Linked DNA regions of Homo sapiens. The protein of the gene in region 6 purifies or fractionates together with the protein of the main gene of each other region. This does not show direct contact. Each region holds a gene or a part of one and is shown on either strand. Other genes may lie near its edges.

Evidence for each region.
Region 1: the proteins of NCKAP5 (region 6) and MAEA purify together in Homo sapiens (affinity purification with mass spectrometry; one large-scale study listed by BioGRID and IntAct). This does not show direct contact.
Region 2: the proteins of NCKAP5 (region 6) and FBXO45 purify together in Homo sapiens (affinity purification with mass spectrometry; one large-scale study listed by BioGRID and IntAct). This does not show direct contact.
Region 3: the proteins of NCKAP5 (region 6) and CEP350 purify together in Homo sapiens (affinity purification with mass spectrometry; one large-scale study listed by BioGRID and IntAct). This does not show direct contact.
Region 4: the proteins of NCKAP5 (region 6) and KIFAP3 purify together in Homo sapiens (affinity purification with mass spectrometry; one large-scale study listed by BioGRID and IntAct). This does not show direct contact.
Region 5: the proteins of NCKAP5 (region 6) and AGAP1 purify together in Homo sapiens (affinity purification with mass spectrometry; one large-scale study listed by BioGRID and IntAct). This does not show direct contact.
Region 7: the proteins of NCKAP5 (region 6) and ANKRD26 purify together in Homo sapiens (affinity purification with mass spectrometry; one large-scale study listed by BioGRID and IntAct). This does not show direct contact.

Annotation. Positions count from the first base shown.
Region 1 is NC_000004.12:1,313,515-1,318,044, forward strand, and holds part of MAEA (E3 ubiquitin-protein transferase MAEA), read left to right. Parts: intron 1-1,882; coding exon 1,883-2,086; intron 2,087-4,530.
Region 2 is NC_000003.12:196,585,581-196,590,510, forward strand, and holds the end of FBXO45 (F-box/SPRY domain-containing protein 1), read left to right. Parts: 3' UTR 1-3,479; downstream 3,480-4,930. UniProt on the Homo sapiens protein: Component of E3 ubiquitin ligase complex consisting of FBXO45, MYCBP2 and SKP1. Functions in substrate recognition but also plays an important role in assembly of the complex.
Region 3 is NC_000001.11:179,957,185-179,961,714, forward strand, and holds part of CEP350 (centrosome-associated protein 350), read left to right. Parts: intron 1-4,530. UniProt on the Homo sapiens protein: Plays an essential role in centriole growth by stabilizing a procentriolar seed composed of at least, SASS6 and CPAP. Required for anchoring microtubules to the centrosomes and for the integrity of the microtubule network.
Region 4 is NC_000001.11:169,920,460-169,925,356, reverse strand, and holds the end of KIFAP3 (kinesin-associated protein 3), read left to right. Parts: intron 1-2,254; coding exon of another isoform or gene 2,255-2,291; intron 2,292-3,575; coding exon 3,576-3,681; 3' UTR 3,682-4,028; downstream 4,029-4,897. UniProt on the Homo sapiens protein: Involved in tethering the chromosomes to the spindle pole and in chromosome movement. Binds to the tail domain of the KIF3A/KIF3B heterodimer to form a heterotrimeric KIF3 complex and may regulate the membrane binding of this complex.
Region 5 is NC_000002.12:236,039,184-236,043,713, forward strand, and holds part of AGAP1 (arf-GAP with GTPase, ANK repeat and PH domain-containing protein 1), read left to right. Parts: intron 1-1,567; coding exon 1,568-1,658; intron 1,659-4,530. UniProt on the Homo sapiens protein: GTPase-activating protein for ARF1 and, to a lesser extent, ARF5. Directly and specifically regulates the adapter protein 3 (AP-3)-dependent trafficking of proteins in the endosomal-lysosomal system.
Region 6 is NC_000002.12:133,561,964-133,565,463, forward strand, and holds part of NCKAP5 (nck-associated protein 5), read right to left. Parts: intron 1-3,500.
Region 7 is NC_000010.11:27,093,479-27,098,008, reverse strand, and holds part of ANKRD26 (ankyrin repeat domain-containing protein 26), read left to right. Parts: intron 1-4,209; coding exon 4,210-4,324; intron 4,325-4,486; coding exon 4,487-4,530. UniProt on the Homo sapiens protein: Acts as a regulator of adipogenesis. Involved in the regulation of the feeding behavior.

The DNA.
Region 1 (4,530 bases), on a different chromosome or scaffold from region 6:
CAGGAGTTTGAGACCAGCCTGGGCAGCACAGGGAGACCCCATCTCCACAAAACATTAAAAATAGCCAAGCGTACTGGTGCCCTCCTGTAGCCCCAGCAGATACTCAGGAGGCTGAGGCAGAAGGATTGCTTGAGCCCAGGAGGTCAAGGCTGCAGTGAGCCACGATCATGCCACTGCACTCTAGCTGGGCGACAGCGAGACCCTATCTCAAAAAAAAGTTTGAAAGTCTCTGCAGGGAACAGACAGTATAAAAAGTGATTTAAGGCTGGACACTGTGGCTCACTTTGGAAGGGCGAGGCAGGTAGATTGCTTGAGCCCAGGAGTTTGAGATCAGCCTGGGCAACATGGCAAAACCCCATCTCTACAAAAAATAGCCAGGCGTGGTGACACACACCTGTAGTCTCAGCTAATTGGGAGGCTGAGGCAGGAGAATCGCTTGAGCCCAGGAGGTCGAGGTTGTAGTGAGCAGAGATTGTGTCACTGTACTCCAGACTGGGCAACAGAGTGAGACACTGTCTTAAAAAAGTGATTGGGCAGGCACAGTGGCTCACGCCTGCAATCCCAGCACTTTGGGAGGCCAAGGCAGGCGGATCACCTGAGGTCAGGAATTCAAGACCAGCCTGGCCAACATGGCGAAACCCCGTCTCTATTAAAAATACAAAAAAATTAGCCGGGCATGGTGTACGCCTGTGGTCCCAGCTACTCGGGAGGCTGAGGCAGGAGAATCACTTGAACCCAGGAGCTGGAGGTTGCAGTGAGCTGAGATCGCACCACTGCACTTCAGCCTGCACAGAGACTCTGTCTCCAAAAAAAAAAAAAAATTCAGAATTTAAAAGGGACTAAAATTTCAAGAAATGGGAAATATAATAACCAAAAATGAAAAACTCAACATTTGCCTATAACAGTTTAACAGTTAACAGACAAAGCTAAAGACAGAATTAGTGAACTGGAGGGTGATCGAGAATGGAGCACAGAGACTGAAAAATCAAAGTGGCTGCGAGAGTAAAGCATGGAATAGAGCAGAAACCTGTGGCATGTTTCACCAGAGCCCACCAGTGGGTGGGGACAGAGATGGTGCGGGGAGAGTGACCAAGGTTTCAGAACTGATGAGTACCACCAGGTCAGAATCCGACACAGAGTAAGTGAAAATAAACCGACATGGGATTTTCCCGTGGTGGAACTGAAGAAAACAGAGACAAAGAAATATTTGAAAAGCTCCTGAGGGCAAAAGATGACTTCCAAAGGGGCAACAGACAGCCGGACAGCTGATTTCTGCACAGCAGTTGGAAGCCAAAATTGGTAGAATGTGCTGAAAGAAGCCAGCCCGGATCCTGGATCTGTCCAGTAGTCAGTCGCCGTGTGTGCTGTCAAATTTTTAGCGAAGAATTCAGTTCCTCAGTTGCACCACTGCCCTTAAGTGTGTGGCAGCCACGTGGGCTGGTGGCAGCTGTGTTGGGCAGCACAGGCCTGGAACGTTTCTATCTAGCCCGATTCATTTTTAACAAAATTGACTTTAAGAAAAAAAGTATTGCAAAAGATTTTTTTAAAGTCACCTTATAATGATAAACAGTTTAACCAGAAAGGCATAGCAAATTTGAAATTGTATGCATCTGGCAACATGGCTTCAGGGTATATTAATATAAAGCCAGAAATAGCAGAGAGAAGCTGCAGATCCAGGGTGGTGGATTTTCACTGCCTCCGTCTGCAGCTCTTGGGCCAGGCACACCTGCCTAGCGGACTCGGTAGAGCACGGTTTTTTTTCTGTCCCGTAATCCCTGCTTTTCTCCTTGTGAGTGTTGTGGATTGGGGCAGCCTGGCCTCCCTTGGTGCAGGGCTGCGGGGCATCCCTGTCCTGAACGTGCCTCTGTTGTGTGTGGCTCAGGCGGTGGAATCCATCCAGGCCGAGGACGAGAGCGCCAAGCTGTGCAAGCGCCGGATCGAGCACCTCAAAGAGCATAGCAGCGACCAGCCCGCGGCGGCCAGCGTGTGGAAGAGGAAGCGCATGGATCGCATGATGGTGGAGCACCTGCTGCGTTGCGGCTACTACAACACGGCTGTCAAGCTGGCGCGCCAGAGCGGCATCGAGGTGGGTGCCCGCCAGACGCAGGCACAGCGCCCCAGCTGGCCCCAGGCCTATGGCCAGCCGCCCTGTGGCATGTCCCCCGGCATGCCTGTGTCCCTACATGCTTGTGTTCCCCTCCCCCCACCCCCGTATGCTTGTGTTCCCCTCCCCCCACCCCCGTGTGCGTGTGTCCCCCCTCCAGTGTGTGTGTGTGTCCCCCTCCCCGTGTGCGTGTCCCCCTCCCCCCATGTGCATGTCCCCACCCCTGTGTGCGTGTGTCCCCTTCCCGTGTGTGTGCCCCCCCCCCCCCAATGTGCGTGTTTCTCCCCCACCCCGTGTGTGTGTCTGCGCTGTGGTGAGGGCCTCCTCCCCAGCTGAGAGGCCCTGACCCTTTGTGGAAACGCACCTGGGACTTAGCCTTCTGAAGGCAGGAAGTCAGTGTCTAAGCGGCTCTCCAGGTTCTTCTCATTTCCCTGTGGTGTCTGCACACATCCTGCTTAGGATTTTCCCGCCCGATACCTGTACCCCGGGTTTTGCGCTGACACATGCTCCATTGCTTCCTCGTGAGAGCTTTGCCTTTATCTCAGGCGGGGTGCGTTTTCCGTGTTTTCTGTGGCACCCTGTAGAAACACGTGGCACCCTTGCCCTCTGTGGCTACAGCTGAGCAGACGCTGGGCGGTGCTGCCCTCTGGCACCTTTGGGCCAGGTTAGCTGGGGCGGCCTCTCTGCCATCGGGCAGTTGTCCACTGCTGTGGGGGCCCATGGCAGTTGGAGCCTCCCAGACCAGCACTTGGGCCCGTCGCCCTTGCCCCTGTCCAGATCCTGCTGTGGGAGCACAGCCTCACCTGACTCGGGTTAAGGTGGCGTCCGTGTTCCATTTGACTGAGATGACAACACTTGAGAACCTCTCAGGCAGGACTTGTGCGAGAGGATTGTGCCCCATGGCCCTGTCCCGGGCCCAGCCTCCCCATGCCCAGCCATGCGCCTGGCCCCACAGGCCTCCCTCCCATGCTGCTCCCTGCCACGGCTCCTCAGCCCACCTCCTCCCTGCTTCTGTCTAACCAGGGGTCTTCTCTCTTTCCACGGCTTAAATCCCACCCACATGTGTGTGGCTCCCACCTGGGGCATCATGGGCCTCAGCCCTGGCTGAATTCAACCCCAGCACAAGGCTCCCTTCCCAGCCTTGGAGGCGGCCTCACATTGTGCAGTCCAAGGCCTCGGGTGCCCATGGGGCCACACTCACGCCCCCATGCAGCCATCTGCACGCCCTGCTGGCTTGCAGCCTCCCCCACACTCCTGTCACGCTCCTGCCCAGCTCCCCAGCCTTGCGGCACTCCAGACTCACCCCCAGGCCCACCCGGCCCCACACTCCAGACTCACCTGCAGGCCCACCACGGCCCCACACTCTAGACTCACCCCCAGGCCCACCCCGGCCCCCACACTCCAGACTCACCTGCAGGCCCACCCGGTCCCACACTCCAGACTCACCCCCAGGCCCACCCCGGCCCCCACACTCCACACTCACCTGCAGGCCCACCCGGTCCCACACTCCAGACTCACCCGCAGGCCCACCCCAGCCCCCACACTCCAGACTCACCTGCAGGCCCACCCCAGCCCCCACACTCCAGACTCACCCGCAGGCTCACCCCAGCCCCCACACTCCAGACTCACCCGCAGGCCCACCCCAGCCCCCACACTCCAGACTCACCTGCAGGCCCACCCGGCCCCACACTCCAGACTCACCCGCAGGCCCCACACTCTGGACTCATCTGCAGGCCCCACACTCCGGACTCATCTGCAGGCCCCACACTCCGGACTCACCCGCAGACCCACCTGGCCCCACCCTCTTGCTGGCTCTTGTCCTCGGCATTTGTCCCGCACCTCGTTCACCTTCTCTCAGATGCTGCCCTGGGTGGAGCGGCACCCTCCCACCCATGCCTTCTCCCCACTGCTGCACAGCCTCCCTGCTTGTGTGTGTGTGTGGTGTCCGTCCTGCCCTCCAGGAGGGGAGTGGCGAGCAGCTGCCCAGTGGGCAGGGTGAGCGAGTGAGTCCTCGTGTCCTGGAGGCCCTCATCTGCCCAGACCTGCACAGCACTGTTGCTCTCGGCACCGCTGGGGTATGGCGTCTCGGTTCACAAGCGTGAATGTGATGTGTCACAGCTGTGCCATGAGTTGATCTGCCAGATGGCAAAGTGCACTGATCCTCTGCGGTGACCGGGGCTGGTGCCCCTGGGTGCCCTGCAGTCTTGTTGAGTTTCCGAAGTCTCCAGGTCATGACTCGCAGCCACTCCAGTGTGCACCCAACATTCTCATCGCTGGACGGGGTCGTCTGTGATGCCTCTGCCGTGCTGCCCACTGGGCTGCTGTGGCCCCCATCTGGTGCCATTTTTCCTCCACCTGGGTGTCAGGGAAGGGCATTCTCACCTGCACCTGCCCAGGCTCATGTGACGGACAGTGGGCCAGCACAT
Region 2 (4,930 bases), on a different chromosome or scaffold from region 6:
GGCAATATTTGAAGGTTTCGTTGTAGAAGAGTTTAACATTAACTCCTATTTTGACTTACAAATCTTGTTTCTCATCACTAAAATGCTTTTGAATTAATAATCCAACCCACATGAGCTGAGAGTTTTTCTTTTGTTAGAAAAGAAACAGACATCTTTCTGTATGAAAGTATAAATTGTATGGTTTTAGATACATAAGAATTGACAAAAGCGAGCGAAATCTTTGTACTTCTGAGTTCTTGCTGTATGTATGTTTTGTTTTAAATCTGATTAGGGACACCCAGCAGCTGGCCGGGATTCTTGGATTGCTCCTTGGGAGTTAAGATTGTCAATACTCCTGTGAAGCAAGGGATTTCAGCCATAGAACAAAGATTTATTGTTGCCACCTGAAAAGTTTACAAGTATTTATTGTGTATTTGATACATTGCTTGAAAAGATGAAATCTGTTAAAGATTCTTTTCGATGTCCAGGTTAAGAAGAAACCTCCTTGTATTGAGTGAAATTATATGTTAAATGTATTAGAGAATGTAGGTGGTATAGAAATTGATTTTTCTTGGTGTAGAACAACTCAGTTCGGCAAAGTTTAAAATTTGATTAAACAAGAGAAGTGGTTCAGGTTGAAGATGGACTTGTTAGGAAGTGATCAAGTCCTTTAAGTACTTGTTTCTTTTTCAGGTTGTGATGTGGCCATTCCGAATTTTGTTGAGAGTTTGGTTTATAATTGTCTCTTTTGTCTTGTTAGTAAACATTCATTTGCAACAGTTTTGAAGGTGCTGAGTGGAAAACCGAAACACATGGTTATTGCGTATTGGACCTAGAATGAAATAATTGCCTCAATATTTAACAACAAGCCATTCTTATCTCAAAGATTTAAATTCCCGAATGTCCCATTCGCAAATCATATGCAATTGAAGTGAGCAGCATGAGCATCTGGGTCATGAGGGCCTTCATTTACGTAAATTTGTCACTAAAACCCAGTAGTAGCTCTACAAAATCTTAAACTGCTGCAGTGCTCAAGGAGATGGAATATCTTTGTCATTGGTGCTGAGGAGAGCATTTCGGTAGAAGACAGTTGCGCCTGAAGATTGAGTGTAAATCATTCAAACCAGTGGTTCTCAGTGTTGGCTGTATACACTTTGTAGTCACTTTGGAATGTTGGAAGACACATCGATGCTTGGGTTCCGTATGCCAAGATTCTGATGTTGGTCTGGAATATGAGCTGGTCATAAGGATTTTTAAAAACTTTCTGGTCATTTCAATATGCTGCCAAGGTTGAGAACCACTGTTGTAAAATTCACCTTGAGTTTTCTCATCTGCAAAATAGAAAAAAAAAAATCCTTGCTCCCTCCCTTCACTACCTCACAAGGATATTGAGGGTAAAGGAGAAAATAATGGGAAAGTGCTTGTGCCGTGGATGAAAAGTGCTATTAAAAGTCAAAGGAGTGTTCTGTTTCAATTCATAGTATGATCAGGGAAAGTGTAACTGAGTATACTTTGTTGACTTGGGAAACCTGGAGCACTTTCTTTGGTTGGTTAACGAAGCATGCAGATGTGGAAGCAGACGTTACTATTATCCCTACTATGGTCTTCTGTCATACTGAGACAGGCTGTTTTAATTACCTGGTTTTACATAGGAAAGAAGAAATATTAAGGCTTAAAGTTTGTAATGATCAATGGCTCATAATTCATTAAATCTTTTCATACAAGGAATTTGTGGTTAATGTCATTTCATAGTTGCCATTATTTTCTCATTATTTGACTTAAATGTTAAGCCATTTATTTCATCTCCCTCATTCACATAAAGTGTAGATATGGATTCAATAAGACACCAAAAGAAAGTAAGATTTACCCAGTTAATATTTAAAATCATTGTTCAGTGATTAGGCATTTTCTGCCTTTTAGAATTATTTGACTGGAGAAAGAGTTTCAAAAATAGCAGAGCCCTAAACCATAAAGAAACTACTACTGTATAATGAACTTTTGTTTGTTTTTGGAGACAGGGTTTCACTCTACTGCCTAGGCAGGTCTTGAACTCCTGGGCTCAAGCAGTCTTCCTGCCTCAGCCTCCCAAGTAGCTGGGATTACAGGTGTATGCCACTATACCCAGCTTTAACTTTTAAATCCCCAAACTATGTAGATTGTCATATTAATATTAATTTTTTTTTGTTATTTTGAAGAAGTGAGTAATTTGAAGAGATAGAAACTTAGGGAGTGGTGTGTGTGTTTCTTTTTTGGAGACAGAGTCACGCAGGCTGGAGTGCACGATCTTGACTCACTGCAACCTTTGCCACCCAGGTTCAAGCAATTCTCGTGCCTCAGCCTCCCGAGTAGCATGTGCCACCACACCTGGCTAATTTTTTTCTTTTTTCTTTTAGACGGAGTCTTGCTCTGTTGCCCAGGCTGGAGTGCGGTGGTGTGATCTCAGTTCACTGCAACCTTTGCCTCCCGGGTTCAAGTGATTCTCCTGCCTCAGTCTCCCGAGTAGCTGGGATTACAGGCACCTGCCACCATGCCTGGCTAATTTTTGTATTTTTAATAGAGACGGGGTTTCACCATGTTGGCCAGGCTGGTCTCGAACTCCTGACCTTGTGATCCACCCACCTCAGCCTCCCAAAGTGCTGGGATTACAGGCATGAGCCACTGTTCCCGGGCCTAATCTTTGTATTTTTAGTAGAGGGGGTTTATGCCATGTTGGCCAGGCTGGTCTTGAACTCCTGGCCAACACCACCCACCTCGCCTCCCAAAGTGCTGGGGTTACAGGCGCGAGCCACCGTGCCAGGCCAGAAATTTAAGGAGTTTTAAAGGTTAGCATTGAAAAGATTACTTTCCAGAAATTGAGACCACCACAGTTCCACAATTGGGACTGTGGTAGATAATCAGGACCACTTGGAAGCCTTTATTAGGAACAGCCCACACCCAGCCCAAATGCTGTCCTCAAAAACATTCCTCAGTTTCTCTAGCTGAATGTAATCTCTCCTTGAAATTTCCCTAGTTTTATATATCTATAGTTGACTCATGCTGTATTTATTTATACCTTGTTTAAAATTATTTATTGATTATTTATTGGTGTCATATCGCCCCTAAACTGGGACAGGATCTCTAACGGACTCATCTTTGTGCCACAACATGTAAGCCCAATAGGCAGGTGCTCACATATTTGCTGAAGGAACAGAGAAAGAACTGCGGAGAAAGACAAAAGCTCCTCTGAAGTTTTAGACTATAGAAGCAAAAATTATAGTAGCAAAAGATGAATGAGAAATTCTGTTCTAGTCCCAGTGAAGCAGGAAGGAAAGGGTTGCAAACTTGAGGCTGGTAAGGAAGAAATAATTACTGTGAATGCATTTAGCCACTCCCCTCTACTCAAAAATACTGGTAAACTCTGATTTTTATATTTGTTTAGAATTTAAATTAGAATTCTGTATCTTTATTTTTTGGAATTCTGTTGTTTTGCCTTAGTTTCTTAATAAAAAGTTAAACATTAACCACCTGTGATTGCTTACATTTAAAGACATTTTTTACACATTGGTTAGAAAGAAAAATTGGGGTGCCTTAATAGCCAGAGGTGGTGATGGAATTTACCTATAAATTCCATGGCTTTAATAATAGAATCCACATTCCCCATGTTTAGAATGGAAAGTGGACAGAGAACAGTAATTCACTAGGGTCTTATTTCCCAATTGCCTCTACCGCCCCCCACCCCACCCTCCTGCTGACATTTGTTTGATAATGCAGTTGTTTGCCAAGAATTATGAGAGACAGGCATGCTATTCCTGAACTGGCTGAATACACGGCTCCTGTGATCCAAAAGCTTAAAAGAGAATCAGTTGATGATGTTGCTAAACAAGTTGGCTGATATGTTAAAGTTCAAAGCATTTTAATTTTTTTTTTTTTTTTTTTTTTTTTTTTTTTTTTTTTTTTTTTTTTGAGACAAAGTCTTGCTCTGTCACCCAGGCTGGAGAGCAGTTGATGTGCTCTCGGCTCATTGCAACCCCTGCCTCAGGTGATCCGTGTGCCTCGGCCTCCCAAAGTGCTGGGATTACAGGCATGAGCCACCGTGCCCAGCCCAAAGCATTTAAATTTTATAAAAGAAAAATAGGTGTAAATGTTCTGTATTTGCCGCTTTGTTTAGTGGAAAGAGACGCCAGAGACAGCTTTACCAGTCTGTTGTCCTGATTTCTTTTTTGGATCCTCCCTCGAACTGTTTGCTTCTTATTTAATGTGTTCACTAAAATACTGTTGAGAGCAACATGTTCTCTAGTCTTCAGAATAATAGTTTGCTGAAAGAAGTAGCCCTTTAAGATTTAAGATTGTTATTCAGCTTTTGTATGTAGGATTTCATGATGAGTGGCTCAAGAAGTAGGAATCATTTGGGGAGTTTCCTTAGGTCACCCTGTTGATAGTGTTTAATTTCTGTTTAAGGCAGGAAAACATTAAGAAAAGATTAGAGAAGTCAAGTCCTGTCTATGATATGATATGATACTTGTACACCATGTTATATTTCTGCCCCCTTTCCTGTATAAATAAAATGGGGATAAAATCAAGTAATGGTTTTGAGGTCATAGCTCCCTTAAGAAAGTCTCCCTGAAATAATGTATTAAAATTCTAGCGTCTCAAGTTAGATTCATTAGAGGCATATTGTAGTGGGAACAGACCAGATATCTTTGTTTATTTTAATATAGCTAACTTGTTCATATTCCCAACCCATGTTTAAAGAGCATATGATTGATCTGTGCCCCCTTGTTGGTCATCTTCACCTTGGAAGGAAAGGAGGCTTAAGGTTGCAATGAGAGTTGTTGATGACATCTCTAACCCCTCAGTAGGCCAAAGAGTGATGTAGTTCATGATCCAATTGCCCAGAATAGCACGGACAGATGGTTACTTTGCTAAAAGACATGTTGGTAGCAAAGACACTGCTCTGAGCAGAGACTGGTGG
Region 3 (4,530 bases), on a different chromosome or scaffold from region 6:
ATACTCTTAGTTATGTAAAACAAACATTCAAGCCACATGATCAGTAACATAACTGAAAAGTAGTAATATCTTGATGATTTTATTGTTGAGACAACTGATGATTTAAAAAGTTAATTCTCTGCATATAATTGTGATTGTTATTTTTGCAACATGAGGCAAATTTTAGTGTTATAGTGTAAAAAAATCATCAGATTGCATAGTATTTTTTTCTGTATTGATTTGTTGTTGTTGTTGTTCATTGTTATCATAAGTGTGATTTTACATTTACTTGTGGTTATTTTGAGTTATTCTTTGCCTTTCTCATCTGGTCTGTAAGTTCCATGATGGCAGAGATCCTTTAATCACTATTATGCACCCAGTGCCTAGCATATGGTAACATAGTCAATAAATACTAATTGAAGAAATTGACTAAAGAATAGTCCCAGAATAATATTTTAAATGCAAAACAAAACAAAAGACTAGTTCTTAGTTCCTAAGCACACCTCAACTCTTGGGAATATATTCCAGAGATATGCTCAGATTTGCTGGGTAGCAAGGGAATGACAGCCTGGGATTAAAAAGCCACTGGGAATAAGCCACAGTGGAAACTTCATTTACTATTTTAATGATTTGCCTAGGTGCTCTGGCAACAGGTTACGGTAATTTAAAGAAAATATAAACTTTAAGACCCTAACCTGTTATACTAGTACTATAATTATAGCCTTGTAATAACTTTAAGTCACTTCTTAATCTCAGTATTGGGAGTTTAAATTCTTCAAGGCCAGCTAGTCCAATTCCCATATTTTATACATAAGAAAACAGAAGGTTGTATAGGGGCGATATCTCATGCATAGTTGATTTCATAACTGGGAGAAGAATCCATTGCACAGCTGCTAAGTCTACATTTGTTTAATATGTCAGATAATTATAAAATCAGAACATAATTGTGATCAACTTGGCAGTCTATTCAGTATTAATTAAAAACTCAAAATGGGCCTTTTTTTTCATGAATCCAAAGTGTTAACTTAAAAATGAATCTGAACCCTTTCCTCTGTAGTTGGGACTATAAATTGATACCATTGGAGCAACCTTCTGGAAGGAAATTTGGCATTCCCTATCAAGATTAAAAGTATATATATTGTTTGATAGAATCATTTCCTGCTTAAAATTTATGTTACATAAATTTTAACAGCATAGGAATTGTATAAGAATGTTTATATTAGCATTATTTCAAGATGTCAATAACATTTATAAATAATTTAAAAATGTCCTAAATGTCTGTTGGTAGGCTAATAGTTAAAAGTCTAGTATTTTTATGCTGTGAATTACTGTGCAGTTGTTAACAGGTTTCAGGGTATCTATATTTACTTCATGAGCAGCAGCTGAGCATATCCTTCAGCTCCTGGAACCATGCGGTGGACCTTCTGGATTCAAAACCTAACTGCACTACTTTCTAGCTGTGACTCTTGGCGAATTACTTAAAGTCAACTATAAATTGGATATACTAGTAGTTCTCATGTTACAGGGGTACCATGAGAATTAAATGAGTTAACAGTTAGGCCCTAAATAAGCATTAATAAGCGCCACATAAGTGTTTGCTGTTACAATTATGTATTGACTTGGAAGAATGTTCATGATATAAAATTAAGTGAAAAAATAAGTTGCACTATACTATAGAATATGATTTATTTAAAAAACACATAGACAAATGTAGTTTTGTTTTCATTTTGCATGTGAATAGAAAAAGGTCTATAAGGATAGACATTAAACATGTTATTCCTGAGGGAGTGGATGACTTTTCTTTTTTACTTTAGACATTTTTGTATGGTTTTATTGTAAGAATCACTTTTATAATTTTTGAAACTTTTTTCTAAAAAAAGGAAGTAAATTTTTTCTTCTATTAAATAGTGATATAAATGTATTTTTGAATGTGATTTTTAGAGATCTACACATTTCATCAACAGAGTGTCTCATAATTAGATCCTGTGTCAAAACATTTGTTGATGGAAGGGCTGGGACTTGGTGGCTCACGCCTGTAATCCCAGCTCTTAGAGAGGCCGAGGCAAGTGGGTCACTTGAGGTCAGGAGTTCGAGACCGGCCTGGCCAACAAGGCGAAACCCATCTCTACTAAAAATACGAAAACTAGCAAGGCGTGGTGGCAGGCCTGTAATCCCAGCTACTGGGGAGGCCAAGGCAGGAGAATTGCTTGAACCAGGGAGGTGGAGGTTGCAGTGAGCCAAGACTGCCACTGCACTCCAGCCTGGGCAACAGAGCAAGACTCCATCTCAAAACAAACAAAACTTTTGTTGGCTGGGTGCGGTGTCTCATGCCTATAATCCCAGCACTTTGGGAGGCTGAGGCGGGCAGATCACCTGAGATTAGGAGCTTCAGACCAGCCTGGCCAACATAAGGAAACCCCATCTCTACTAAAAGTAAAAAACTAGCTGGGCATGGTGGCAGGCTCCTATAATCCCAGCTGCTGGGGAAGCTGAGGCAGGAGAATTGCTTGAACCTGAGTGGCAGAGGTTGCAGTGAGCCAAGATTGCACCACTGCACTCCAGCCTAGGTGACAGAGGAAGACTCTGGCTCAAAACAGACAAACAAACAAAAAAACTTTTGTTGGCAGAAGGTTGAAATTTAGGAAAATCTATAATAAATATATTTGTTTTTCTCCTAGCTTTGTAGCCTTAAGTCTTATTTCTTACTTTACAAAGTAAACCCGTAGGCTAGATCAGTGTTTCTTAAATCCAGTATTCCTAAACTGTGCACTGAAGTAAATCCTCACTTAATGTTGTCCATAAGTACTTGGAAACTGCAACTTCTAAGACCCCAAACACCTCTAATATTAAACATTGAAATAAATGGGTCCTATGCATACATTTAAGAAATACTAAAAACAAGATAATTACCCACTTATTTCAGTTCAGGATGGCAGGTGGCTGGAGCCTGTCCCGGCAAGTAGGGCACAAGATAGGCTGCCATTCCATTGCAGGTAGCATTTACAGACACACACACACCCACCCACCCACCCACATTCACTCAGACTGGGACCATATAGACATGCCAATTCATGTCAGTTCACCTAATGCGTGCACCTCTCTGATGTGGGAGGAAACTGGAGCATACGGAGAAAAGCCACACAGACATGGGGAGAACATGCAGGCTCCACATAGATGGTAGCCCTGGTGGGGAAATCAAAATTTTTTTCTCATCAAAATTGTGAAGAAATGATATTGAATGAAACTATGTTATGGAGGACCTGCCGTACTGTGGAGCACCATAGTAACTCACCTGGACACTATGCATTATTTGAGAAATTTTAATGGAAACAGCAATATTGGATAGCTGTGGGATATTTGACATCTATAGGACACTACTCAAACTACCAGTTTGAGATACCACACAAGAGATTGTGTTCCATTTTTTTTGATGACACTGTGTCTTCCAAACGCTAGGTTTTGGGAGTTTGCTGTGATAAAAAGCAAGTACTATGCAAAAATCAATTTGGAACAGTAAATGAAGGTGGTGGTGTCCAAAATGATTTCAAGATTTGAGAACTTGTGTAATATCTAGTAGGTACACACATCCTATTAAGTAGTTGTGGTAATTTAGTAATAAAAATATTTATTTCAATTTATACATATTTATTTTTCGATCTGCTACTAAGTTGGTAGGCTATAAATACTTTTTAGGTTGTGGACTGAACTACTTAGTAAATGGAACTGTTAGGTATTTTTTTGGCCTAGGGGTTCCATGAAAAAAATAACTGGCATACTGAGGGGTCTGTGAACTGAGAAAGTTTAGGAACCTCTTGAACTTTTGACCAGGACACCTATATATATTTTCCATGTTCTGTGCTCCCAAAGGTTGATTTTTTACATTTATCTTTATTTTTTATTTTTTTAAATAAAAAGAATAGATGTGTGTTATACGTGTATGTGTATACATATAATGAATCAAAAGTTTCACTTTTCAAAGTTTTACTTTAAACAGCCTCATGGCCAGGCGCGGTGGCTCATGCCTATAATGCCAGCACTTTGGAAGGCCGAGGTAGGCAGATCATTTGAGGTCAGGAGTTCAAGACCAACCTGGCCAACGTGGTGAAACACCATCTCTACTAAAAATACAAAAAAATTAGCTCGGCGTGGTGGCGCGCACCTGTAATCCCAGTTACTCAGTAGGCTAAGGCAGGAGAATCACTTGAACCTGGGAGGTGTAGGTTGCAGTGAGCCGAGATCGCGTCACTGCACTCCAGCCAGGGCGACAGAGAGACTGTGTCTCAAAAATAAAATAAAATAAAATAAAGCGCTCACTACCTTCAATACACTTGATATTTGCAAATCAATCCTATTTAGTTCCATTAAAAAAATGCTAGCTCCAATCCACGATATTGTTTTGTTTTGTTTTAATCTACTAACGGGTCATGACTACACACTTGATAATATGATGCTGGTTGACTCCTAACGTCCAGCTTTAATACGGTTTGTTTCTCTGGTTAGTTATAAATGAAGTTAGACTACGCTTTAGCTTTTATTTTAGATTTGGGTTGT
Region 4 (4,897 bases), on a different chromosome or scaffold from region 6:
TTGGCCTTATCATTCCTAGTTATCTTTTCACAATAAACAATAACCATTTTCTTTGGACCAGAATTATGTATTTTCAGGAAGAGACACTATTTTGGTGATTCAAAGGTCCAAAATATGTTATCTGAATACGAAGGAAAAAGGTGAAATGGCACTAAATAAGTAATCCTATAAAGAAAAAGTACTATAATAGTTGCATATACTAGTCTAGAGGGATACACCACATTTTATGTGGGTTAGGAGTAGCAAGAAGAAACTATGTACATACAGAGACATGCACCCTACAAGATTGGATTGAATTCCAGTATACTTATAAATAGCCACATATTCAAACTATTATCTGAAGCAAAATGGCCACACAAGGCAAGAGCAGATGTGGCATGTCACAGCTTACTTTTCCTTGCTTCTCAGGGCCCCTAGTGAGGGCATACAAATTCCTGTGATACACACTATTGAAGTCAAGTCTTTCCAGATCAGGAAAGCACAATTTTTCCTGCAACGTTGCCTTTTTATATTCATAGTTTCTATCTCTTTCAAGAACTTACATGAAGAATCTATCTGCTTCTGTTTAAAGGAAAACTCTCCGGGTTTTGAACTAAACTCAGCATTAGCAAGGCTGTATCCTTTTCCCAAGGAAAAAAGTAAAGTGTCTACATATTCCAAAAGAATGTCTCCAGGTTTTAGCATCCTAGAAAGCCTGATTTCCCCCACTATATTAGAAAGAAGCAAATGAGAGTTTAAAGAAACAAACTGTTATGTTTCACAGTGAATTTAATTAAAAATGTATGTAGATATAGTTGATTTTTCATAATACAAAAGGACCTAGGACCTATGTCAAAGTACTCTCCAAACTGATCATAAATGTTTTAAATATTTTTTGCTTTAAACAGCAAGTTCATCTGTGATACATAATGGAGAATTCCAGAAAAGATCATTTTAGAGTTTGGTTTCAAATTTTATTCCTTTTTTCCAAAACGATATTTGTATATAGAAATTCGAAAAATTAAATGATATCCTCTACACTGTAATACACACAGATGTCTCTGGGTGAACTGCTGACTACATAAATAGATCTTTACCATAGTAACCTAAAGACCATACTGTTCAAGACCAGAGATTTACAGGTTCAGAAACTCAGACTCATCAGTGCTCAAGGGCCAGTCTTTCACTGACTTGGGACTGCAGGTTTTTATCAACAATGTGCATGACATATTTTAAAAAGAAAAATCCATTTGTTAATGTACAATGAAAGTTATAACCATCAGGTGGATTAGGTAATATCTAAGTTTATTATTTAACCTGTTGGCAAATTACATGGGAAATTACAGTGATCAATAGTTTGCCTATTAGTCGTAGAAATAAAAAAAAGGGGGAGAATTTTGCAACTTGAATGTAGAATGGCCTCAGACTCTGAGAATGTTAAATTCCCTTCCTGATTGAGGACCAAACTGCAAAAAGGCCAGATATTCCTTATGGTGTTATAGCTTACCAGATCACCACGCAATTGCCTAGGTTGCTACAACCAGCGTTGTAGCTGAGACGCTCCTTGTTCTGTGCCAATGACTGGTGAACTCCCTTCTGAGGACCATCTTCTTTTAGGTAGAATTACAGTGATATTGCTAACAAGTCGTCTGTGAGATACTCTGAAGGTGCCTTTGCATGTTTCCTCACTGTCCCACATATGCCTCTTGTTTTCATATTACTGAAATAGATCTTGCCATAGCCCCTAGATTGAGAAACAAGCATAAGATTAACTTGAGTTTAACCTAAGTCTACTGCTATTTGGCCTCAGAGGAGTTGCTAAAAAAGATAAGGACTGGTTGAAGACAGGTAATAAGCAAAAGATGAAGAAGGAACAAGTTGAAATCCAAGCTATGTAATCAACAGTTATATAATTGAGAGTTCTTTAGATACATGATTACTTGTTAGCCTTAGTGCTTGCAGAGAACAGTTTTCAATAACTTCTCTAATTTTAAGCTGATACCAGTGTCTCTTAGTTCACTGATTCCACTAATTTCTGAAGCATCTTTTAAGCTACCTCTTGATTTCCTCATCACAAAATTTAGTCTCTCTTCCCATGAGATCAAAGTTAGAAAAAGTGCCTATATTTTTACCATTTCAAAATAAAATGTAGACTTAAAAATTTCAACCAACTTTGAGAAACTATAGACAGAGTTTTTATATAGAAGGACCCCAAAACAACAAATTTTGTCCAGAATCGCTCAGTACAAATGCTAACCTGAAACTTGTATTTCAGAACTTCCATTCTCCTAAAGGGCAGAGTCACTGGACCAGTATGTGTTATATGTATTTTGGCTCTTTACATTTACTCTTTAGTTCCATCTTAATACACACAAGCACGCGTGCACACAAACACACACACGCATTCACACATTTATTTAAAACCTTAACATTTTAATAGTTACTTCTAAAGTGTGTCAACTTAATCTCACTCTGAGTGTGACAGGGAGTTAGTGCCTATGTGAATATATTTTTTCATCACATTCAGTTTTTGCTATTGAGGGAAAATTATCTTTCCATCTCATGTAGTGCAAACTTAAATCTTAAATCATTTAAATATGTTTTATTTTTCCAAAGCTTACATTTCTGCATTACAAATGGTGTCCATTGATTGGAAGTCAAGCTCACTAGCATTCACTGCATGAGCTATGCATGAGCATGTTAAGGCCACCATGTTCTGCCTGGCAAAATAAATACTTTATCATTTTCCTAAGTGTTGGATAATTCCCTGACCTTTAAAAAGGACTTTGGAGAACAGATTTTCCTCTAAATAATGTATTAATAGACCAACAAGTAATTTTTTTAAAATAATAATCATGAAGTTTAACATACTTCAAGCTATCTTTACAACTCTGAAGGTTATCTTTGGGTTTCTGTTATTCCCATAGAATAAGTTGAACCAAAATTTGTAATTGTCTTGCTGTCACTCAAAAGAAATAGATATGTTTTGTAATTGTTTGCATTGAGGAATCAGAGGAAGGATTTGCAGATCAAATCTGACTAATTTTCAAATTTTGTCAAATTCCTTATCTTGTTCTTTTAATCATAGGCTTATGGTATGATTTGGCCCTGCATGAGAGTTCACTGATATAACTCAAACACATGTTTTTACTAAAAGTGGAATTAGTCCTGTATCTTCATATGAAAAGACATTATAAACAGCAAAACTCACTTTACTACAGTTTTATTTTTATCATTCCCTAGCAATATATTACTGATCATTGCTAGCATGTAAAATCTTTTCATATTTTTGCTTAAGAGCCATATATAAGTAATTTATTAAATAAAACTTTTCTGATTTGATTCTTCCACTTTGTTTCAAATAGTACCTACTGACAGAGGTTTCCCATACTTTTAACACACATTGTTAGAAGTATTTTATTATATACACTTTTAATGGCTCTATTAACCTTAAAAAAAAAAGTTAATGATATCCACCTAAATCACTATCCCTGCTAGGAAGAGAATCTTGGTGGTATAAAAATGTAGGCCTCTTAATCTGCATTGTGGATGTGTGATGAAAAACATAGCTTATCATTCTTTTTTTTCTTTTTTAGCCTTGGAATGGATGGCTTTGGCCAACCAGTTGGCATTCTTGGACGCCCTGCCACAGCATATGGATTCCGCCCTGATGAACCTTACTACTATGGCTATGGATCTTGATAAAGTATCTGTTTCCATGTGTAATCTCAGCTTAGAAGAAATCTGTGTGGGTTGGGTTAATTTTGGATCTTTGCCTAATAATGCATGTTGATGTTATTGTGGGTCTGTGTTTGTTTTTATTTTTATATGTTGTTAGCTGCAGATTAACCCCAGCCCCTCTGTCTTCTGTTAAGTACAGTTGATACTGACATTGTTCACTCATCAAACCACATCTTGATGCTAAGTAACATTTCCCATGAGCCACAAAACTGAATGCTGAAAAGCTACTAGACTGGAAAACAAACACTGCATTATGTATGTTAAGTGACTAATTTAATTTCAATTAAAAAGCGTAAAGTGAAAATGAATAAGTGAAAGTCATGTGTTTATATTTCACACATTTCACTACGAATTACATGTTAATATAGGGTGCGCGTGAATTTTATTTTTTCTCCTTTTTTTCTGCTTGTAAACTCTTGAGTAATTTGTATAATATATGCTACCTTTAAAATTTATAAAAAGAACATCACCTTCATATTCCATGCCATGTGCCTGAAAGTTTCCTTCCCAAAGTTTATTAACTATGAGTTTTCAATTAATAATGGAACATATGTCATAAGTTATTTATGGTTATAGTCTCTTTGGTGGTTTTAATTCATATCTTCCTAGTTGTAATATAGAAATCCTAGGACAAGTAGTATACAAGACAAGCAGTGATACAAGATTAGCATTTGGCTTTTAACTTTTATTCTTCATAAATTTAGTATCTAAAGCATGGGAAAGCTAATTAAAAGTCGCATTAAGGAAAACTAAGGAACAGAATATTTCACTCACTTGGGTACCCAGTTCCCAATTGTTCACTTGTTCTTATAACGTACATTTAGATAGCAAGAAATGGAGAGACATTATATAATTCATAATGGGTTTTGAAAATAGTTCAGTGTTTTCATATTAAAAAAATGTTCAATTCTACTTGAAAAGCTGAGCAAAGAAATAACCATAATAATAACTATAATCAGAGATAGTTCCATGATCACCTGCTATGGGAGAAAATATGAAGCTTCAAAGGGAATACATAGATCAAAGATAAGACTTCTGTTCTTGAATTTAAAATCTCATTGATCTAACTACACTATTTATGTGGCTTAAATTACATTTTAAGCAGAAGATAACATTTGGAAAAGGCCTTTGAAATAACTCATTCCATCTACTTATTTAAGAAACCAATCACATAAAA
Region 5 (4,530 bases), about 100 Mb from region 6:
CCTGTACTCCTAGTGCTTTGGGAGGCTAAGGTGGGAGGATCACTTGAGGCAAGGAGTTCGAGACCAGCCTGGCCAACATAGGGAGACCATTGTCTCTACAAAAAAATTTTTAAATAGCCAGGTGCATGGTTCACACCTGTAGTTCCAGCTACTCAGGAGGCTGAGGTGGGAGGACCACTTGAGCCCAGGAGATGGAGGCTGCAGTGAGCTATGATTGCACTACTCCAGCCTGGGCAACAGAGCAAGACCCTCTCTCTAGGTGGGGAAAAAGGTACATATCCAGTACATATCCTTTCACTTAGAACTTCTACTTCCAGGAATCTATTCTTAGTAAATAATCATGAGTGTGTACCAAGACTTAGCAATCATATGTTCTTACAGCATCGTTTATGATAGAGAAAAATTGGAAGCAACTTAAATGTCCATCAAAGAGAACTTGATAAGTAGGTCTTCACTAAGTGGAATGCTATGCAGCCATTTAAAATGATGATGTCAGAGAGTATGTGACAGCAGTGAGCAATGAACAAGTTTCGTTAGGCTGGAAAGGGCAGGTTTCTATGCAGCAATATGTATTACGCTGGCTTTTTAAAGTACATATGTGTATGTAGATGTGCTTAAACAACAGGCTAAAAGAACAGACATCAAAATGTTAATAATGCTTAACTATGGATGGCCGTATGATTGTTTATTAATTTTATGTTCTTTTTCCCCTCTCTGTATTTTCTAAACTTGCTTCAATGAGCATGTATGTTTTTAAATCCTTTTTAAAGAAGACCATAGAGCCAGGTGTGGTGGCTCACACCTGTAATCTCAACACTATAGGAGGCTAAGGCAGGAGGATCACTTGAGCCCACGAGTTCAAGGCTGCAGTGAGCTATGATCACACCACTGCACCCCAGCCTCAGCCACAGAGCGAGACACTGGCTCAAAAAATAATAATAATAAATAAATAAATAAAAATAAAGCAAGCCATCAAGTGTAAGGTTAAGAATCAGCACTCCCAGCTATACTCGTGTTTCTCCCTGCCCCCACCCTGGCGAGTGGCTTTGTCACTGTGGCAACCGAGGGTCTTCAGATGACATGTGCATCTCCCAGGGTGACGTGTGGTATGAATGGGGTTTTCTGACAAGGAACCATGAGATATGTCTTACATTGCTGATGAAGCCCTAACCCTGGGCTTATAAACGGATTATTTCTTTCTCATTCTTCTTACCAAGTAGACATGTGGCTACTGCCCAGAAGGTTACCCATTTACCTTCTCCAGGTTACCATGGTCCATGCGTATTCACAGATGATCCAGAACTCTCCTCTTTGCTCATTTCTGGCAGAGTCCGTCTCAGCTGATGAGTTAAAATGTGACATTTCCTCCCTCCCCCCGCCCCATGCATGATGATTTCTTCTTCAGTTATGCTCTTTCCCAAAGACATCAAAACAAGAGTGATTGTTTAGAAATTACCCTCGTCCTACATTTGCTCCCAATCTGTTTGATCTTTCCCTGATGTTATCAGTGATGTGCGTTTCTCCCGGGGTGCTTACGCCTTGTATTTGTGTCTTCCTCCGTGCCCAGTCCCGGCTGACGAGCCAGAGCGAGGCCATGGCCCTGCAGTCGATCCGGAACATGCGCGGGAACTCCCACTGTGTGGACTGCGAGACCCAGAGTAAGTGTGTGCGGTGGTAGCAGGGGCTGGCGCTGTGTAGCTGGAGACCACATGGTCCCACTAGGCCCGGGTTGCAGGGGACTCACATCTGTCCTGTTTGGCAGATAAGAGTTAACTGCTTTTAGGAAATTGAGATATTTTGTTTGGATTTTACCTTAACAGAGTGCCTTCCACACAAGCCTCACCCCTGGCTGCAGGGTGCGTTTCTGTGAGTCTTTCCTTGCCTTAGGCATCCGATGAGCAGCAGTCATACCTGAGGTGCAAAGGATTCAACCCCACACCCACAGCCTGTGCCAAATCTAGGAAGCCCAGGAATTCAAGACGAGCCTGGGCAACACAGGGAGAACCCGTCTCTACAGAAAATTAAAAATTAACTAGGCGTGGCAGCTGGCTTACTTTTTGCTTAATCAGTGATCACTTGTTGATTTTTTTTTTTTTTCATAAAAATAGAATATAATTGGTTCATTCCTGCCTAGAGATTCTTGGGTATTGTTTTTTTAAATTCACAATCATATGTTCTGGGTTTTGCCATCAAATGATGTCTTGTTTTTTTTTGGTCTTAAATCCATTACCCACTAAAGCCTCTGATTGAACTGATAGAAGTTGTAATTACTGCTTTGTGCCATCGAGTACCCCAGTTTTATTTCATGATTTCCGTTGTCTAATCCATACTATTACTTTCCCTTTGAAAAAGTCATTTTGTTGTTCATAATCTTGAGAGTAGGGACTTATTTTCATGGTTGCAGTCCCAGCCCAGAGACAGTATTGGAGACATTCAGTAAATTTCTTCCCTTCAGATTTTTTTTGTTAAGTAGTGTTTTGAAGAGAAGGAAGTTCAGTTCAAACAAGGTAAGAGGTGCTGGTACCAGGCTGGGTGCTGCCCAGGAGTCAAACGTGCATGGCGTGGTGGGTCCTGCCATCCTGAAGCCTGAAATGCACTGGACAAGGCACCAACCTGCTGACCATGGAGCTAAGCGCTGGGGAGAGCCATCGGGGGCATGCGGCGGTCTTGCCACCCATGCAGGAGCTGTCGTGTCAGCAGGGCTCTGGAGATGGGCAGGGTTTGTACAGGGAAGGGGCCGAAGGAATCACTGTGAGCAAAGGGAGTGGCTTGAGGAGAGCTTCTCTGGGTGGTTGTAGGATTAGAGATGCTTTTTGGGCTGGAAAACCAGTAGAAGCTAGTTGGAGTGTGAGTGCCAAGTGAAACTTTTTCCAGCTTTGTTCTTCATTTGTAAGCAGAGAGACATCATTGGAGTTTTAGAGCAGGAAGGAGATGGACCCTGAGCTCCACTTGGGGAGATGGATCTGGCCAGACCATTTTGAACATACTGGAATAGAGGCAAAGCAGGGAGGAGGCCAGCCAGGGTCGGCTTGGCCGGGAAGGGAGACAGGAGCCCAGGACTGCTCCAGACAAAAGGGAAAGGAAGCGCCCCCTCCAAGAGTCCACTCAGCAGCATAGCAGGCAGGGGAGAGATCAAAAGTCTGTCTGCGGCCTCTCTGGAAGCCTGTCCTGCGGGTGAGGGAAGGGGTTCTTCTCCAGGTATCTTGAGGTTCTTCTTTAAAGTACCTCCTTATGTTTGAATGTTTAAGTTTTACTTTCAAATGTGTGGTGAAATGAAGTTCGAAGAGAGAAGCAGTTATTTGAAGTGTGTTTCTATCAAAAAGTTTTAAAAGTAAGAGCTTTTTTAAAAGCACGAATCTGAGAAATATTAGAACATCCATTAAGGAAAATGCCTGCAGTTGTTTCCACCGTGCGTCTGAAGGTCGCTTTAAAAGGAAAGCCATCCGTGGCTTGCGGGGACCATGATACCTGGCAAATCGGAGGTCGCAGGTCCTGTCTGAGATGAGCTTGTGCATGTGAGTGCGGATGGGGGGTGGGAAAGGGAGGCCAGTGCAGGGGAGGTGTGGGCCAGTTTGTTCTGAGCAAGACCACCTGAGCAGATGGACAGGGACAAAGGGAAAAGGCAGAGTTTGACAATTCAGGAGAAAGAGGCGATACCAAGCACGCATTTGCTAAATGTGTGGTCTGTGTCAGCCCGGTGCCAAACCCTCCCATGCGCTGTCTTTTCATTCTGCAACCCTAGTAGTTGGTGCCCCTGTGGGCCCCACTTAAAGGGGAGGAATTGAGGAGCCTGAAGGGTCAAGTCATTTGTCTGAGGTCACAGAAATAGCAAGTCCCAAAGCAGGATTCAAACCCATCTGTTGTCCAGCCTGCTGTATTTTCTCAAGAATGGAAAGGCTCAGAAGATGTAGCACATTGGCAAGGATTTGTTAAGTAAAAATACCCAATTTTGGTTAAAGTACCGGGATAGGTACAGTGCCCACACTGATGATGAACTGTAAACACCTCCATGGGGCCTTTCGACAATGTATATAAAAAGCTTTTGAAGAGTGGATGCCCTTGACTCCAGCTGTATACTCCAGGAACTAAACCAATGGGATTGAGTAAGGCGGGTGCAGAGATCTGTCTTTCCAGATGTTCATCACAGTGCTTTACATGGCAAAAAATCAGAAGCATCCCAAATGTCTAACAATTGAAGAGCAGTTCATGGTGATGTCTTGTCTTTGCTACCTTTAAAAATCATGGAAAAAGACTTAATTGAGCCTGGGCACGGTGGCTCACGCCTGTAATCCCAGCACTTTGGGAGGCCAAGGTGGGCGGATCACCTGAGGTCAGGAGTTCGAGACCAGCCTGGCCAGCGTGGTGAAACCCCATCTCTACTAAAAATACAAAAATTAGCCGGGCATGGTGGCATATGCCTGTAATCCCGGCTACTTGGGAGGCTGAGGCAGGACTTGAACTCGAGAGGCGGAGTTTGCAGTGAGCCAAGATCACGTCATTGCACTCCATCCTGGGCGACAGAGTGAGATT
Region 6 (3,500 bases):
GTAATCAAAACAAAAATAAGCACTATGCATGTAATTAAAACTGCGATATAATTATATTGAAGAATAGGGATGCTCTGGGAGGTACAAAAAGATATATTATAATCTACCATAATAATAAAGAAGTAGTACTTTGACATACACACAGAAACATATGATTTAGGAATATTACATAAAAACAGCTGAAGAAAAAAAAAACTCAGAAATGGGGTAGAGAGGGTGGCCCAAGAGACTGTAAGATTTTATATAAATATACACACACATATATATATACACATATAGAGAAACACATACTCAATGTTTATATATATGAGCATGTTAGAGCTATTGTTTAGTACTAATATTCATATATATACATAGATATATAAACAATTTACTATTGTTGGATTTTCTGATTTATGAGCATGTATTACTTTGACTTTTTAAGTTGCTACAAAACCAGTTAGCACTGACAATGGAAACCATTTGAGAAATGCCTTTTGGGCTGGCCTGGATCAGTTCTATGTTTCTAGATTCAATTTGCCAAATGAAGCAAGTTGCCTTTATGGAGCGGTTTGTCAGACATGCGTCTCGACAGTAACACTTGTTCCCACATTTCAGAACTAACAGCTCTTCTTTCAACACCGTAATATTTATCTGCCATGTTATTATTCCCAGTGTATGCTCCAAAATGGGCTTGGGACTCTCCTCTTTCCTCTTGAACTCAGTCCACTGGGCTTCTACAATGCATCCAAATTCTCCTCAAAGGAATCACTAATCCGGTAAAGTTGATTTCTAAAAGGAGAGATCTGGTTTCTTGCCCTGAAAATACCAAGATTAATTTATGTAACTACGGGGAAGTACCCTGTGTAATTGAGGCTTCCAAACTGACACGATACACTTCATTAGGCAAGTATGTATTGGGGCATTGTAAATGTGTGGGTAATGTTCTATGTATCTGAGAGATTTATTATTTCATCTATAAAGGAAGGACAATTGGGAATCCAAAATTCCAAAGGCATTAAACCCTGTAGAGTTAGAGAACTGGAGAAAAAGAAGGCTATAAGGTACTTTGTGCTTAACTGGGTCCATGACTTGCCAGAGTGTTCAGACTAAACCCTTCTGGCTATTTAAATCCACTTTCACAAAATGCTACCATTTCCTTAGGTTACCATTTTCAGGGACCAACCAAATGGCCAAACATTATTTCCAATTTTTTCTTTGTATCTAATCCCTGGATTACACTCTTGACCAAACTTTACTAGGCCTACCAAAACCCACACCAAGAATGTAAATAATCTTGATGTTTAACCATAAACTTGGGCTACTCTACAAAAAGATTCAGGTCTGGCCGGGCGCAGTGGCTCACGCCTGTAACCCCAGCACTTTGGGTGACCGAAGTGGGCAGATCACGAGGTCAGGCTATTGAGACCATCCTGGCCAACATGGTGAAACCCTGTCTCTACTAAAAATACAAAAATTAGCTGGGTGTGGTGGCACATGCCTGTAATCCCAGCTACTTGGGAGGCTGAGGCAGGAGAATAGCTTGAACCAGGGAGTCAGAGGTTGCAGTGAGTCGAGATCATGCCACTGCACTCCAGCCTGGTGACAGAGAAAGACTCCATAAAAAAAAAAAAAAAAAAAAAAAAAAAAAAGATTCAGATCTCTGAGATTAAAGGAAAAATAAAAATAGTAAAGGACTGCGCATAGGCGTTAGACACTTTGGAAAGACTAGAAAATGTGAATTGCCAGTTTGAATGGGTGGAAGTATTAATCTGCTATACTGCTCTGCCAGTGCAGTCAATCGGGGCAGATGTGAATGACCAAAACGTCATTGTGGGTGAATGTGAGGCTCATGAAGCCTCCATATCCAGAAAGCGGTAAAATGAAAGGTTAAGAGTATGCACTGTGGGGTTGAGTGCAGTGTCTCATACCTGTAATCCCAGCACTTTGGGAGGCTGAGGCAGATGGATCATTTGAGGTCAGGAGTTTGAGACCAGCCCGGCTAACATGGTGAAACCCTATCTCTACTAAAAATACAAAAATTATCTGGGTGTGGTGGCAGGCACCTGTAATCACAGCTAACCAGGAGGCTGAAGCAGGAGAATCACTTGAACCTGAGAGGCGGAGGTTGCAGTGAGTGGAGATCGTGCCATTGCACTCCAGCCTAGGCAACAAGAGTGAAACTCCATTTCAAAAAAAAAAAAAGTACGTGCTGTGGGTTCAAATCCTGCCTCTGCCTCTTATCCACCCATGTGACTTGTGCACATTACTTAACCTTTCTGAGCATCAGTATTTTTGCTTGGACAATGAATACAATGATCATAATAAGATAGCATGAGCACAGAGCTTGAAAGTGTGCCTGGTATACAGTAACCACTCAATAGTGATTGATGTTGGAAGAAAACATTTTAAATCTGTTTTTATTGTGCCCATCAACCATGTATCCATACATTTTTTTCATTTATTGAGAACTCATTGTGTGCCAGGTGCTGAGTTTACAAACTACACTTAAGATTACAAATTTGACAACTCAAATTTGGCAACGACTCTATCTCAAATTCACTAGAATCTAGTGGCAGCAGCGGAAGGTAAAGAAATACTTTTAAAATGGGGCTATGCAGTGTAAGCATCCCAACAGAGTTTAGATAGAATACCATGGGGTGTGACTGTTTCTTCATCTGAGAGAAGTAAGAGGGGAGACAGAGCAGGGAACGTTGTCAGATGAAGCCAAGGAACGTGGAAGGATTTCAGAATGCAGGACCGCAGTCTTCTCTCTTAAGTAGGGAGGGAGACACCACCTGAGGGAGGAGCACAGGCAAAGCTGGGACTCAAGAGTGAAGCAAGGCTCACAGGTGCCACCGTGGGAAAGGGGTAGGCACAGGGCAGGAGTCAAGTGGAAATGAAGGCATTCAGTGAGCAGTATTCATCCGTCTACTCAACAAGTAATTCCCTAAGGGCAGTGTCATGCATGGTGCTAAGTTTGGGGAGTCAGTTGGCAGGTGTGCCCTCGTGAGACACAGAGGCTGAAGAGGGGAACAGAAGCACAGTGAACCAATGCGGACGGAGTTCCATGGTGCACAGGGACACCTACCTGCGGTGACTGGGATGTGAAAAGCTGCTCACAGGACAGGAGGTGCATGCAAGATATGGAGGATAAACTGAGTGTGTGGAGAGGTGCTGCAGGAGTACAAAGGTGCAGATGTGCTGAAGAACATACAAGCCCAGCATATTTCAGTAATAGAGAGCAGCTCCTGGTAGCTAGGCCAGTAATTCCCATCGAAATCATCTGAGGAACTTTTTAACCATGGCTGGATCTGAATCCCACCTTAGAGGTCATGATTCAGTAAGTCTGGGGTGGGACGTGGGCATCAGCAAGATAAATAATAACTGTAGCTAATACTCATTAGCACTTAATGTATGCCTAGCATTGTGCCTATTGTTTTAGCTACATTAAGATATCTAATCCTTCTCCATCTTCCCATGAAGGAGGCACTCTCATTATCCACATTTTAAAGAAGAGA
Region 7 (4,530 bases), on a different chromosome or scaffold from region 6:
TTTTATTTTAGTTGTGTCCTTATGACAATAAAAATACCAAATATAAATGATAATTAGGCTGGATGCAATGGCTTAGGCCTGTAATCCCAGCACTTTGGGAGGCTGAGGAGGGTGGATCACTTAAGTCCAGGAATTCAAGACCATCCTGGCCAACGTAGTGAAACCCTTCTGTAGTAAAAATACAAATATTAGCCAGGTGTGGTGGTACACACCTGTAGTCTCAGGTACTTGGGAGACTGAGGCAGGCAGTAGAATAGCGTGCACCTGGGAGGCGGAGGGTACAGTGAGCTGAGATTGCACCACTGCAATCCACCCTGGGTGACAGAGCGAGACTCCATCTCAAAAAAACAAAACAAAACAAAACAAAAAAAAGATAAATATTATTGCAAAAGAATAAAAGAATTACTCTACTTTATAAGAATTTTATTTAAAAATATTGAACTCCCTAATGATTTTTCCATTCTTTCAATCCATTTATTCATCAATCATAACCTGAATACCTGTTATGTAGCAGACATAGTCTACTATCTCTTTTTTCTTTTTTTCTTAGACAGAGTCTCCCTCTGTTGCCCAGGCTGGAGTGCAGTGGCCAGATCTCAGCTTTACTGCAACCTCTGCTTCCTGGGTTCAAGCGATTCTCCTGCCTCAGTCTCCTGAGTAGCTGGGACAGCTAATTTTTTTTTTTTTTTGTATTTCTAGTAGAGACAGGGTTTCACTGTGTTAGCCAGGGTGGTCTCGATCTCCTGACCTTGTGATCTGCCCACCTCGGCCTCCCAAAGTGCTGAGATTACAGGCTTGAGCCACCGCGCCTGGCCTTTTTTGTTTTTGAGGTGAAGTCTCGCTTCTTCGCCCAGGCTGGAGTGCAATGGTGTGATCTCGGCTCAATGCAACATCCATCTCCTGGGTTCAAGCAATTCTCCTGCCTCAGCCTCCCTAGTAGCTGAGATTCCAGGCACGTGCCACCATGCCTGGCTAATTTTTGTATTTTTAGTATAGATGGGGTTCTACCCTGTTGGCCAGGCTGGTCTCAAACTCCTAACCTCAAGTGATCTGCCTGCCTTGGCCTCCCAAAGTGTTGGGATTACAGGCGTGAACCACCGCTAGTTATAAGCATATTAATGTAAGTGCGTAGTATTTTAATAAAATGTGGTAGAATATAGACTTGATCTTTGAATTGGAAACATAACAGTAGTGGACATGAAGATTTGCAGAGCTGATTTTTTTTTCTTTTTTTTTTTTTTTTGAGATGGAGTCTCGCTCTGTCTCCTGGGCTGGAGTGAGTTGGCATGATCTTGGCTCACTGTAACCTTCTCCTCCCAGGTTCAAGCAATTCTCGTGCCTCAGCCTCCCAAACAGCTGGGATTCCAGGCACCCACCACCATGCCTGGCTATTTTTTTTGTATTTTTAGTAGAGACGGGGTTTCACCACGTTGGCCAAGTTGGTCTCAAACTCCTGACCTCAGGTGATCTGCCTGCCTCAGCCTCCCAAAGTGCTGGGATTACAGGCATGAGCCACTGCACCAGGCCAGAGTTGATATCTTTGAAGTGAGGATTTTACTTCTATGCAAATTCTTTTCTGTCAGAGGTGAATCCCTATTTTAGTCATGAATATGATATTTATTCCCCTTTCACAACAGGAACTTCATATATATGTATATAAGTGCTGTGTGGTGTTCTAAACTATTTCAGTCTTGCATTAGCATTGTAATACATAATGTAGCTAATCTGCTATGAATTTGGGAATGCATTTTATGACAAATTTACAGAGCTGTCAGGGAAGATGGAAAGTTGCTGATTTCTCATATAAAACTGTCTTCATAGAGCTTGATGTGAATCTCCTGCACTTCTGGAAGCAGGTATTTAACTCATCCCCAGGAAATCAAGCCTGAGAGAAGTTCTGGTGAGCTGCTTGGCTCCTGTGTTGAGACTGGTCTGGTCTCTTAGCATTTGTTTTGGCAAAGAATGTTTGGATGTTTATAGAGGACAGATGAGAGCTCTGGTCAAGTATGAGAGCTGTTGGTGGGAGGGAGAATCCATTTGGGATCCCATATGAAAAGTCCTGTTAAGGGTGTGAGCAGGCCTTAGAAGAGGGTAATCCAAAGTGGATCTGTGGATTCCTTAGGAGCTAAGAGGAAAGAAAGGCCAGAGTGGAGTGCATTCATTCAGGTCAAGGCAATTGCAGGTGAAAACATAGTCTACTATCTCTCAGGACCTTTCCATCTTCAAAACCTTTATGTTTGCATACCTGCCCAGCCTGAGCAAGTTGAGAGATTTAAAATTAGACTATTAGGGCAATCTCAATTGAAGCTTTTCCTCCCTCCTCTTATTTATTTATTTTTTTGAGAGGAGATTATGCTCTGACACCCAGGCTGGAGTAAAGTGGCATGATCTCGGCTTACTCCAACTCTGCCACCAGGGTTCAAGTGATTCTCCTGCCTCAGCCCCCTCGAGTAGCTGGGATTACAGGCATGTACCACCATGTCCGGCTACTTTTTGTATTTTTAGCAGAGATGGGGTTTTACCATGTTGGTCAGGCTGATCTTGAATTCCTGACCTCAAGTGATCTGCCTGCCTTGGCTTCCCAAAGTGTTGGGATTACAGGCGTGAGCCACTGCACCCAACCCCTCTTTATAAACAAAAGTGTTTCTGAAGGTAGAAAATTATAAGAAATAACCTTTAATTACCCTTTTGAAAATTTATGTCTTAAACACGAATATTAGTCATTGGAAATATCTGCATATATTCTATAAATCTAAATATTGAATAAAATGAGCCAACCTATTCATTTGAATCCTGAGTTTCTTTTGTGTTGAAGTTTCTTGAAAACACAATAAGAATTACTTTGTTTTAAAAATCTGTTTTTCAATTTTAAAAATGCTTCCAATTATAGTTGTAATAAATCATGAATTACAAGTGGCATTCCAATGTCAGAGATATTGAAATGTGAGAAAATGAGCATCTTAGAATCACTGAAATACTGTGTTATCTCTAATTTTTTTTTTTTTTTTGTAGACAGGGTCTCTCTCTGTTGCCCAGGCTAGAGTACAGTGGCACAATCACAGCTCACTACAGCCTCAACCTCCTGGGCTCAAGCGATTCTTTGGCCTTAGCCTCCTGAGTAGCTGGGACCACAGGTGTTCACCACCATGCCTGGCTACTTTTTAAATTTTTATAGAGATGGAGTCTCACTATGTTGCCCAGGCTGGTCTCAAACTCTTGGACTCAAGCAGTCATCCTACCTCAGCTTCCCAAAGTTCTGGGATTCAGGCATGAGCCGCCATGCCTGGCCTTATCGCTGATCTTTAAAACATACTGTCAACTAGGTATAATTGTATCATTTCATTTAATTAAAACATCTTTATTAAACAGTAGTAATGGTAATTATATCTAACAATTATTGAGCTGTTATTTGTGCTAGGAACTGTTCTAAACATTTTGCATAGATTCTCATGTAAGCATCCCAGTGGTGTCCTATGAGATAGCTACTATTTTGATCCCCATTTTATTGATGAGGAAACTGAGGCACTTACTAAGCCATAATGAGTAAGTGACAGCTTAAAGTAGGATTCAACCCCAAGTTGAACTGAATCTAAAGGTCAAGCCTTTTCTATTCAGATAGGTTGCTCTTTCATTAATGTGGTGAGTAGTAAGAGCTAATAAATATTGTACTGTTTTCAGAAGAAAATTAAATACTTGTTTTGAAGGCGGAGGATTAACATGTGTATTAGTCTGTTCTCATGCTGCTAATAAAGACATACCCTTTATTATATGGGTAATTTATAAAGGAAAGAGGTTTAATTAACTCACAGTTCAGCCTGGTTGGGGAGGCCTCAGGAAACTTAACAATAAGGGCAGAAGGAGAAGCAAACATGTCCTTGACATGGTGTCAGCAAGGAGAAGTGCCAAGCAAAAGAGGGAAAAGCCCCTTAAGAAACCATCAGATATTGTGAGAACTCACTATCACAAGAGCAGCAGCACGGGGGAACCATCCTCGTGATTCAGTTACCTCCCACTGAGTCCCCCTCACCACACGTAGGGATCATGGGAACTACAATTTGGGATTTGGTTGGGGACACAGCCAAGATGAGATTTGGGTGGGGACACAGCCAAACCATATCAACATGCTATTTAATGTTTATAATTTTATGAACCATTGTATGTTTTGAGACAGTGCACTACAGTTTATAAAAAGTCCTGTCACTCTCATAGGACGGCTCTACATTTGGCCTGTGCCAATGGTCATCCAGAAGTAGTAACTCTCCTGGTGGACAGAAAATGCCAGCTCAATGTCTGTGACAACGAAAACAGGACAGCTCTGATGAAGGTATATAGTAGCCAGCTCTTTCAGCATCAGATGGATTTGACTTAAATACATAGAATGAAAATGAATTTATCTCATTAAAATATAACTAATTGGTGAAACCTGTGGAGTGTTTATTTTGCATTCCTAGAATTTATGATCTGTTTCTTGGTCTAATACTCCCAGGCTGTACAATGCCAGGAAGAGAAATGTGCAACTATTCTGCTAGA